2 separate regions of the Homo sapiens genome follow, and region 2 is linked to region 1. Evidence: fine-mapped expression QTL. A gene starts in region 1. The other region holds a variant in brackets. All regions are shown on one strand. Distances are between the middles of the regions.

Region 1 (5,387 bases):
GGAGAGAGGCTTTAATCCCCTCTCTCCAGTTAGGGAGCCTCCTAAGGAGTCTCCTTGTCTTCCAGGTCTCCATTGCCAATCATTTCACAGAAGGGCAGAGAATCTTCCAAAGCAAAGCTGTTGCTGCCTTATAACATTTACCCCTTCTTTCTTGAAAACAGGCCCCAGGCTACCTTTCCAGCTTGCTTTTTCCCCACCCGAGTCCCTCACGCCCACTGTAACTAATCTGGGCTTTTCCTCCTCTGGGCTTTGGCTCACGCCGGTCCCTATATCTGGAATCCTTTCCTTTTTCATCTTTGGCTGCCTAGATTCTGTCCATTCTTTTTTGTTTTTTTTCTGAGGCACAGTCTCACTCTGTGGCCCAGGCTGGAGTGCAGTGGCACGATCACGGCTCACTGCAGCCTTGACCTCCTGAATTTGAGCGATCCTCCTACCTCAGTCCCTGAGTAGCTGGGATTACAGGTGTGAGCTACTGTGACTAGCTAATTAAATTTTTCTTTTTTTGTGGAGACAAGGTCTCGCTATGTTGCCCAGGCTGGTCTCTAACTCTTGTGATCAAACAATCTTCCCTCCTTGGCCTCCCAAAGTGCTAGGATTACAGGTGTGAGCCACTCTACTGGGCCTATTCTTTAAGGCCCATCTGAAACGTAATCTCCCTTGCCTTTTCTGATTCTCCAACCAGATATCCCTTCCTTGTCCAACACTGGGTATTAGAGTGGGTGTAACTTTTACAAGAGTTGACATTTGGACCTGTACTGCAGATATCTGTGCACCCAAACTGTCAATTCCCATGATCAACTACGTGTTACTGACCTTTGTGTTATAGGTAGCACCTAGAACAGACATTCATATTCATTGGCAATTATGAAAAACAAAAGTCTAAAAGTGCTTCACAATTTTCTGTCAGCTGAAGAACTGGTCAAAGAAATCCAGAGGCTTTTTTTTTTTTTTTTGTAAAGTACAGCTTCTTAATAGGGCACTTGATTTTCTAGGTGTGGACACAACAGTTGATAGACATCTACTAGGTCAAGAAAGGTATGCCTGAATTAGATAAATGACAGACTCAAAAGAGAGGCCAGGAAAAGGCTGAAAAACAATCTGAAGGCATCTGTGGTATCCTTTTGTTTATATCTTGATTTTTAGTTTCGTACAGGGGAACACAGGAAGCTCTGAGGCTTTAAAACTAGAAACTTTGCGATTTAATCAAATGAAAAATTTTGAATGCTGTGCTGCAAATCTGATTAAATAGGGCTAGTAATTCACTTCCAAACAAAATAAACCCCAAACTCAGAAAATCTAGCTCCTTTTAACAAAAAGTCTGGTAATGTTATTTTTCCTAAATTCTAAAGCTTATCAGAGAAGCCTGCCCCCTCACATAAACATTTTTTCATATACCTTTATGAAACCTTCTGAGATAACACTACTACAGAGGTGAATAATGAATTCATAGGCCCTAGCTGTAACTACGTCATTGTTTACTTGGTGACTTTTTTTTTAATCGGGGAGAGGGGTAAAATGGAGATGAGAGAAAATCAGTTTAAACTGTATTCAAATACATTTACACGATTAACACCACCAACTCAAGGAATTTCTTTTTCTTACAGACCTGTAGCACTTGTTGGTAGGAGAACAATGAAATGAACCCATAATTTGAACAAAGGCAACAGGCACCTGCAGCCTTTCAATCACTTAGCAAATATTTCCGCCGAGACAGGGCCGAATTCGGGGATCTGGGCGAGCAGCCGGTGTCACCTTTCTCGGTAAGCTGCAAATCTTGGGAAAACTAGGACCCTTCCCAGGGATCCTGGGCTGGGAGCGGTCTCCGGTTTTTAGACAAATCTCTCCTCCTACCACACGTGACCGAATGGCAATCAGCCGCCAAGAGAGACACCGCAACGCATCAGCCGCGGGATACAAAGGCTCGGCACTGCCGTCGCATCCTCGGGAGGATCGCGGAGCCTCCCGCGCTCGGCGTCTGCGGAGCCTGCGCAGGGAGCAGCTGCGAGGCGCGCCGCTCCCGGGCCCGCAGGGCGGTGCCGCGCTGCGCGGGGAGCAGGAGCGGGGAGCGCGCGCCGCCTGCCCTGAGCGCCTGCCCACCCAGCGCCGCCGGAGCAGGGGCGCCGCGCCGCACCGCACGCAGCCGAGCAGCGCCACAGCCGCCGCCGCCGTCGCAGCCGCAGTCGCCGCAGCTAGGCCCTCGGCCGTCGCAGGGAGCTCCGCAGCGACGTGGACCAAGGTGAGGAAGCCGAGGGCTCCCCCAGACCCTCGGCAGGCCCGAGGCCGGGCTACCCCGTCCCCGCCCAGGCCCAGGCCTTCCCTTTCCTCTCGGCTCCTTCCCCTTCCCACAGCTCCCCTGGGCCTCGCGCCGGCTGCAGGGCGCAGTGAGAGGCACTTACACCACGGCTCTGGAGATCATCCAGGACACCATCTTCACGGGGGCTTGGGCCCCACGTCCGGGGCGGGTGGGCGCAGGGCGCTGCGGACCAGGCCGCCAACGGCAGGCCGCGCGCTTCGCCGGCTCCTCGCGCTCCCCGGGGCCGCGCTGGCGCCCTCAGGAGCCGGGCCCGGTGTGTGCGCGCGGCGGCCTGGGCTGCGCAGAGGTCGGTCCCCCGCCCGTCCCCGCCCGCCCCCGCCCGCCGGCCCGGCAGCCTAGTCCGGACAGCACCCCGCCCCTGCGCTCCGCTGATAGGCGGTGGCGGCGGCGCGTTGGCCCGGGCCAGGGCTGGGGCCAGGCGGCCGGGCTCCAGGGCTGGGCTGGCGGGATCCTAGCCCGCGCTGGACGGCCTCGCTGCCGCGGCCTTGGCCCCTGCGCTCTAACCAACCTTACCCTCCTTAGCTCTTTGGGACGCCCACACTCGCGGCGAGAGTGGGGCAGGAGGCTGAGGAAGGGTACTGGAGGGTAGGGATTGGCAGTGCCTGTGTGAAAAGTGAGATATTCGCAGGAACTCGGTGTCCAATAAAACTCTCGACCAGGCCCTGGTTTTGGAGAGCCAAGACTTTGAGGTGTGCCTGGCCACATCCGGTATCCTCAGTGTTTACGGAGGCCCAGCACCAAAGGCGTCCTTATATTACCACATTTTAAAGGAATCGTCGAGAGGTTCTTGCACAGGCCTCCGTGTGTGCCACGAGTCTCGTGGTGCAATGCAGGGAGGGACAGAGGAGGATTTCATGTTTGCAGTAGTGGGTGCAGTGATACCACTGTTCTGGGCCTCTTAGGGCACCTTTTCATCAGAGCATCTGCAAAGACTGTTTACAGACACGAATCTCCATTATTTCCCTGAGGCCTGCCAGATGTTCAAAGTAAAGGCTGGGTCTAGGATTCCTGACCTGTCTTAAGATTTACAACTATATTACAGCTGTAAGATTTACAACTGTATTTTTTGGAGGTTGGGTTACTGCTTACACCTTGCTGTTCTTGCAAATATCATTTCAAGGGCAGACTTTTAAAACTGTTTTTTTTTTTTTTTTGTGACAGTACCAAATTGAGAAAATGATGTTAAAGTTTAGATATTTTTATTTTTTCCAGTTAAGACGATAGTAAAAGATAATTCTAGTATTCAGATGGTGCGAAGAATAAAAGATGAAATGTAGGCTTGGAGCCTTTAATTAAAGTCCTAGAAAATATGATGGCTTTTGTGACCATACTGTAATTTTGTCTTCTTGTTCCTCAGTTTCCCTGTGATAAAAAGGGGGTAATAATACTGTAGTCTGTCTCTTGCCTTTCAAGGGTGATATGAGGCACTGCTAAATAATATGTTTAGGAAATACTCTGACTTGCATGGAAGACAATCAAAGGACACAACAGATTATCCTAAATTATTTTCAGTTCTCAGTCAATAAATTGGGTAATATTTCATTATTTAAGAAACAAGCTCAGAAGCTACTTTCTACTCTTGGGTTAGGTTCTTTTCGCTTATTAATTCATGTCAAGACTTTTTATTTCAGGAATTTGAGTAATAATTTGCATTTAACTCTGAATCTTTTATTTTTGGCCATTATTCAGCATTATTTGAGGATCAGGTGTGCTGCATAAGCACCAGTTTTTTGGCGAACTCTCTTGTTCAATAAAACTCAAATGAATTTGAATATCATTCAGATCCCTTCATGAAAGGTCCTGAAATAGCTTTACAGCCTTTACTTTTACTACTTTCACCCCCAACTCCTAATGTACCCGTTCCCTACCTCTCTTCTTTCAGCCAACCTGTATTTTCATGCTCAGTGCTTTTGCCCAGATTTCGTTTTTCCCTTAACACTTTGCTCCCCATTCTGTACCTATCAGAACTCTCATTTTTCAGTGGCCTGTGCCATGAAGACATCCTTGGTTTTCCTCAGGGACAATTATTCCTAATTTTGTCTGTGCTCTCATAATTTATTACTTGAATTTCTATTTCTTATCTGTGTCATTCTGCCTCTACCATGTCTAATGTACTGAATGGTAAAATGTTTGAGAACAGACATGGTGTATTAGATTTCTTTGTGTTTTCCAACTATCTAGCCTCAGATAGGGTAAACGTCCAATAAAAATTTGAATAATGTTTGTGAAATACAGTCACTCTTTAGGCATCAGATTTAAAAAATTTCAGCCACGTACATTGGAAGTCTCTTAAAAATGTCTTTCTTGCCTTTTTACTTTGGAGGTCATCATTGTGAATATTAATTATTTCAGCTAATCCTAGTACATTAATGCCTTCAGGGGTTGCTGAAGGCAACCTAGGTAGGATGGCTGGCTGCTCTCTGAAATGTCCCTAGACTGCTGTGCGTTAAGTTTCATTTTGTATGCTTATTATATCTTCTGCCTCTTCCACATTTAGATTACTTTTTGCTGCTTTCTTTCTATTTACCTGGAACAGTGCCTTTTTTCACATCTCAATAGGCCATGGGTTGGAAACCACCTACTATGTGCTATACACGTGTCATTGAGTCATTCTGACAACTTAAAAAGCCATATAGCGTTTATTCCCTTTTGGTACCATGGAAAGTGAGGTTTAGAGAAGTTAACTCAACTGGCGGGTGATCACATAGGTCATTGGTAACAGAACTGGAGATCTAATTCATGCTTCCCAAGCTTGTTTACATTATACTGGGATAGATAGCGGAACTGTGTTTAAGGCGGTGGGTCCAGCTTGGTGTTGCCCTCCAAGGGGAAACTGGAAGGCATTTTTTAGATTGTTGTAATGATTGGAGCTAACAACTTGCATTTGTTGAGTGAAGGCTAGAGAGGTGTGGGACAGTCCTGAACAAAGTGTCCCCATGTCTTGCATGATTTAAGAATATCTGCCTGACTTTCATGTAGTATTTGTAATTATCAAAGCCTGGAACCTCCATCTTGCATCATGATTTTAACTGAGACTGAATTTTAACTGAGTCTGTTTCCACATGCAACGGTT
Region 2 (5,387 bases), 100 kb before region 1:
TCTGACATGATGTTTGTTTTGTAAATCTCTTTTTTCAGAACAGTGAACGATTTAAAGGGAGACTAAAACACTGAAAAAAAATGCCGTTCATATATTGTGTTCTTTTGAATTTTTATTTATATTTCTAACCTCTTTAGATCATTACAAGTATATACCTCATAATGAAAATGAAAATAATTCCATTTAAAATGCTATCTAGAAAGACCTTAACACGCATTATGTGTCATAATGAAGTAACACAAAGAAACTTCTTAAAACATAGGATTTCTCTCTAAAGCTTAAATGTGAGGCAGACAGACGTCTAACTTTAAAACAGATGGAACCCCAGAACATTTCCAGGATACATAAATCTGAATTTTGTGTTACATTTTATGCCTGAGACAGCTAACCCATCCAAATTGATGGTGAGGATTTCTGTACTCATTGTTTTTCCTATCTTTCCTTTCTAACATCCAAATTTAACAATTCAGTATTTCTTTTTCATAATCCTATGGATGACCATACCAGAATGTTTATGATTTTCATAATTTGCTCTGTGATCTGTAATCCTAAGTGTGTGCATATATTTAATCAACACATAATAATAAGTAATACCAATTCATGGAATCCAACATATGTACTCTGGCATAAAAAAAGAAACGCGAATTGCCACAAATAAAATGAGTTTATTTTATATTAAAGTTATCAAAAAACACACCTGTAAAATTACCCACATACTAGGCTTAGAGATAGCCTTTTACAAACAGATTATTAAAAATCTGCAAACTTATTTTCTCTTAACTATTAAAGTACATAGATTTAAAAGGTGTTAGAAGGCAAAATGTTAAGTCATGGTCAATGTCTTAAAAAAGAGTTAATATAATTAAATCTGTAGCATACTACAAAAAGATTAAATCTTAAAAATATTTTGGGAAAAAAGCTATAATTTTCTTTCTGAAAAATTTAATCTTAAGTGATATTTACTAAGAAATATATACTGCAAACCACAATAACAATGATCTTCTCAAAATTTGCCTAATTGCTTCACAAATGAGTCAACTTACAAAGAAGAAAACACAGAAAATTGCTTTTAAATATATAACTCCTTAATTTTCCTGATAATCAAATGAAAATTTAGTCCATCCCAATTAATACAAATTAGACTCATGCTTAATGTAAGATATCATTATATATTTCTTAACAACATAAAAGTTCAAGCATTTTTGGAAAGCACAGACTGTGTTATTCTAAAAAAGGAAAAAAAAGAAAAAAATATTTAACCACAGAAATTTGGAATATTTATATACTTTATAACACTGTAGAAATCTTTGGTGGTGACATATGGAATAAGATCCCTGAAAATACTTTAATCATTTTGTCCCATCAATCAGTGTAGTCAAGTATTTATAATCAGTAATTTTGGCAGTATAATTTTTTAGCCAAATACACACACACACACACACACACACACACACACACACACACACATATATATTGTGAAGTATGTGAGGGGGATCTTATGCAGGACCTAGGTGGGCTTACATAATTAATTATTTAGCAATAAGGCTTATTTCTGGCTCCTTTTTATACCAGGAAAAAATATGGTAAACTAACGAATGGGTCAATTCTTACTCCTAAACAAACTCTGGAAATAGTTAAATACTAATGGACAAGTTGAGTAAATGTACAGCAAAATAAAATACCAGCTGCAATTTCTGTATAAACTCAAACATCTACCAAAATAGTTCCCTAAATAGGTTTGTGCATCTAATCCCGTGCTCCATGTGCTGGCAGAGGAAAAAGCAAGGCACTGTGGTCTATGGATACATTTACCTCTTTTAAAACCAGTAGACTTAAAAGGAGAAACAAAAAAAGATCTGTTCTACCTTAAAAGAAACAAAAATGTACAGGCTAATTAGACAAAGTTCAAAGAAAAGGGCCCCGCTAAAACACATGTACAGGAAAAGAACCAAAATTTAAGAAATGTAGAAGAGAAAGAAGAGTAAAATGATATCAACAGTGTATAATGATGTAAGGAAAGATATCAGAGGAAGCACTGTGAATGTGAAAAAGTGCAGTTAAACAGGACTTGTACTACCTCTTTGAGACTATCTTTGATAAAGAATTTTGAGTCTAGAAGTACAGAGTAATAAATAATTTCTTCAATTTAGAACAGTAATATGAGTTTACTAAAGAATAGGTTTAATACTGGGACCAGACTTTAGAGAGATAAAATGGTGGCTGGGTGCGGTGGCTCACGCCTGTAATCCCAGAAGTTTGGGAGGCCGAGGCGGGCGGATCACGAGGTCAAGAGATGGAGACCATCCTGGGCAACATGGTTAAACCCTGTCTCTACTAAAAAGACAAAAATTAGCTGGGCGTGGTAGCACGGGCCTGTAGACCCAGTTACTCGGGAGGCCGAGGCAGGAGAATCGCTCGAACCCGGGAGGCAGAGGTTGTAGTGAGCCGAGATCGCGCCACTGCACTCCAGCCTGGTGACAGAGCAAGACTCCGTCTCAAAAAAAAAAAAAAAAAAAA[G/AAAAAG]GTAAAATGGTGCAAATCAGCTCCCACAGATAAAGTTCTTGACTCACATGACCTTATTAGGCAACTTCAGATGATACTGTCTTTGAGTAGGAAAGACAAGGACAGTGTAACAGTTATATTAAGAAGTCTAGTACCAGGTCATATAAATAAAACTCTGTTCCGATAATTTACAATTAGAATTCATAGAAATTTGGAATAGAAATTAGAGTCCTTCCAGAAATTAAGAGGCTAAAAATTAGGGTAAAGTAGATAGAGTTATTCAGAATTAAACGTTGGGAGAAGAAAACTGAATTAATTTTACTTGTTATATATGAAGAATGTGAAATAATCCATAAAATATTTTATGACTAGTATCATGAGACAATGTATGCATTATACCAAGGTACTCCTGTGTAAACATTATGTTCTTGGCCAATACTCTGAGGAAGTCCTGAATATACATTACCAGCTGGCTTCATTTCTTAAAAGGGAGACAGATCAAAGACCTCTCGAATCTCTCTCATCATTTTATCTTTTGGACAAACAAATAGAACAGTCAAGTAAATTACCTGAACAAGCATAATAAGTACAAATTTGATTACTGATCACTAAAACCACCAAAAATATATTGACTTAGGGTTCATAATGCATAGTTATCAGTTCAAGCTAAGAAAGCCTTAAGAATTCAATAACTCAAAATCTCTTTGAGATTTAAAGTTAAAAAGTAATATGTTTCTAATAATTTCTAATGTGCAGGATTAATGACAACTGTATTTTGCATTGGCAAATTATCTCAGCCAGAAGAGATTCAAATGATTTTCGTCAATGCCAGTTTATAAACTAGCAGCACATGTCAATGCCAAGCTTGTGAATGGATTGGCTGAGAAAAATTATATGAGTTAGAAGGGATCTAAGTGCTATACTGGTCACTGATTCTATTTCACAAAAGCTACCATTTTTAAAAGCTGAAAATGTAATTGGTGTTGACAAAAACATGTTAAGTTCAATTACTCTGTATAGCTAAATATAGAAAATTGGTTAATGTTTAAAGCAACTTCTTATTTGTTAAGAAGATAATTAAAAATAGTTAAAACTGAACAATTAGCTATACTTTTATATTATTAAAATCCAATGAATTTAACAAATGAAACCCACAGGAAAAGAGATGATATAATTCAAGGCATAGATTTGACATGTCAGAATACGGCAAAAACAATAAAGATAGCATCAGTAAAACAGTTGTAAAATAAGTAAACAATTTTCAAGTGTGCAAAACTAGTCAGGAATAAAAGTGCTATGTGTGGATACCTGGTTTTCAAATATTTGTTTCAAAAACTTTCAGCTGATGGTGGAAAAACTAGAAAGTATTATATAAGTAAAAATTTAAAGAATATATAAAACCTACTTTATTATCTTACATTATGTCCTTGTTATGTCACTGCTGAATCTGAGGCCTATTTAATTACCAGATACAACACAAAAGGAGGTAAACACAGTACATCACAAAGGCTGATTTATCCTGAACCGTAAAAAGGCTCCTTTCAAGTATACTGTGGATTTGTGTTTCATCTTATATCTCAGGCACTCTAGGCTGTTGATGAATTTGAAAACGGACAACATGATTTTCTATAATTTCTAATATACATATTTAGTACATCTTGCAGAACTGCCTTTAGTAGTCAATATTTGGAAGCAATTGTTACAGAAATAAAAACAATTTAAATTCATGAAAGTAAACCCCATCACTGCCACAATTTAAATAATCATTTTAATGTGTAAATCCTGAATATATCATGTTAGAAGATGAAGTCGATGTATTTAGCATAATCTGTCTTGGGATATTTGACGTGTAGATGACTAAAAATACACTTGTGGTCGTTTCTTCACTTTGTATTTTAGTGACCCGTACCGCACCTGAAGAGAGAAATGTTTTATTATTAAGAATTAGATGATTACTTTAAAAAATTACATCAGATTTAATAGTTCATAATCATAGTAATTTTTTTACCTTTTTGATATAAAGAATGAATTCTCTTAATAAATGTATATAAGACAGCACTACTTATAAACTCATAAAAAATGTAGTTGGTAATATTTAGATATATGTTACAGATTATTACTAATAACATAAAAACATTAATCCTATTATTTATGTTTTGCTTAGTACAATGTCAATGAACATTGATTATAATGATCAGAGGCCATTCACAGTCCTCCACTGCTTTCTGGGTATAAAGACAATATGTTATTATGGTTAACTGTTTACTATTTAATCTTCATGTAGCATTAGTTGAAAGCAAAACTGTGTGGTTAATTTTATTCATTGCTTTCTTTGTTTATGCATAGGGCTGGGACTGGGTATTTGAACTATGTGATTTGCTAAATGAGAATGCCATTTTCTACGTATAGCAGAAGATTAAGAGTTTACCATTTTCAAAATTTCCTGATATCCTGATACATTGATCTGAATAAAGAATTTTAAATATAAACTGCTGGCCAGGTGAGGTGGCTCACGCCTGGAATCCCAGCACTTCGAGAGGCGGAGGCGAGAGGATTGCTTGAGGCCAGGTGTTCAAGACCAGCCTGGGCAACATGGTGAAACCCTGTCTCTACAAAAAATGAAAAAATTAGCCAGGTGCGGTGGCATGTGCCTGTAGTTCCAGCTACTTGGGAGATTGAGGTGGGAGGACTGCTTGAGCCCAGGAGTTTGAGTGAACTGTGATTACGCCACACTGCACTCCAATTTGGTTGACAAAGCAAAAAAGCTCTATCCCCAAAAACTAAAAAAAAAAAAAAAAAAAAAAAAAATCAAACTGCTGTTCTACCATTCCAATCCTTCATTTATGGATCATTAATATCCTAAATGATAACACAGCAGGGAAATCCTTCAC

Direction of the effects. Positions count from the first base shown, and alleles are read on the strand shown. Sizes are in standard deviations (SD) of each study's normalised expression.
In carriers of allele G in region 2, the expression in monocytes of the gene that starts at base 2,573 in region 1 tends to be higher than with AAAAAG alone (moderate effect, 0.55 SD a copy in CEDAR).

What was found. PIP is the estimated chance that this variant, and not a neighbour inherited with it, causes the effect. A credible set is the group of variants that fine-mapping cannot tell apart.
Region 2: its variant is the best candidate, but not a certain one, in a credible set for the expression of REEP3 in monocytes (CEDAR, PIP 0.87).

Annotation. Positions count from the first base shown.
Region 1 is chr10:63,518,587-63,523,973 of GRCh38, reverse strand. REEP3 (receptor accessory protein 3) reads right to left here and starts at 2,573. Exons shown (of 8, transcript NM_001001330.3): 1 at 2,397-2,573. The coding sequence starts at 2,428. It also overlaps a transcript of JMJD1C not described here. RefSeq lists a silencer at 1,888-2,937 and an enhancer at 3,328-3,377.
Region 2 is chr10:63,619,836-63,625,222 of GRCh38, reverse strand. It overlaps REEP3 (receptor accessory protein 3), which reads right to left. Exons shown (of 8, transcript NM_001001330.3): 8 at 95-4,410. The coding sequence ends at 4,354. It overlaps LOC105378329 (a long non-coding RNA gene), which reads left to right and starts at 110. Exons shown (of 4, transcript XR_001747467.3): 1 at 110-404. The variant G/AAAAAG (reference allele first, on the strand shown) is at 2,518.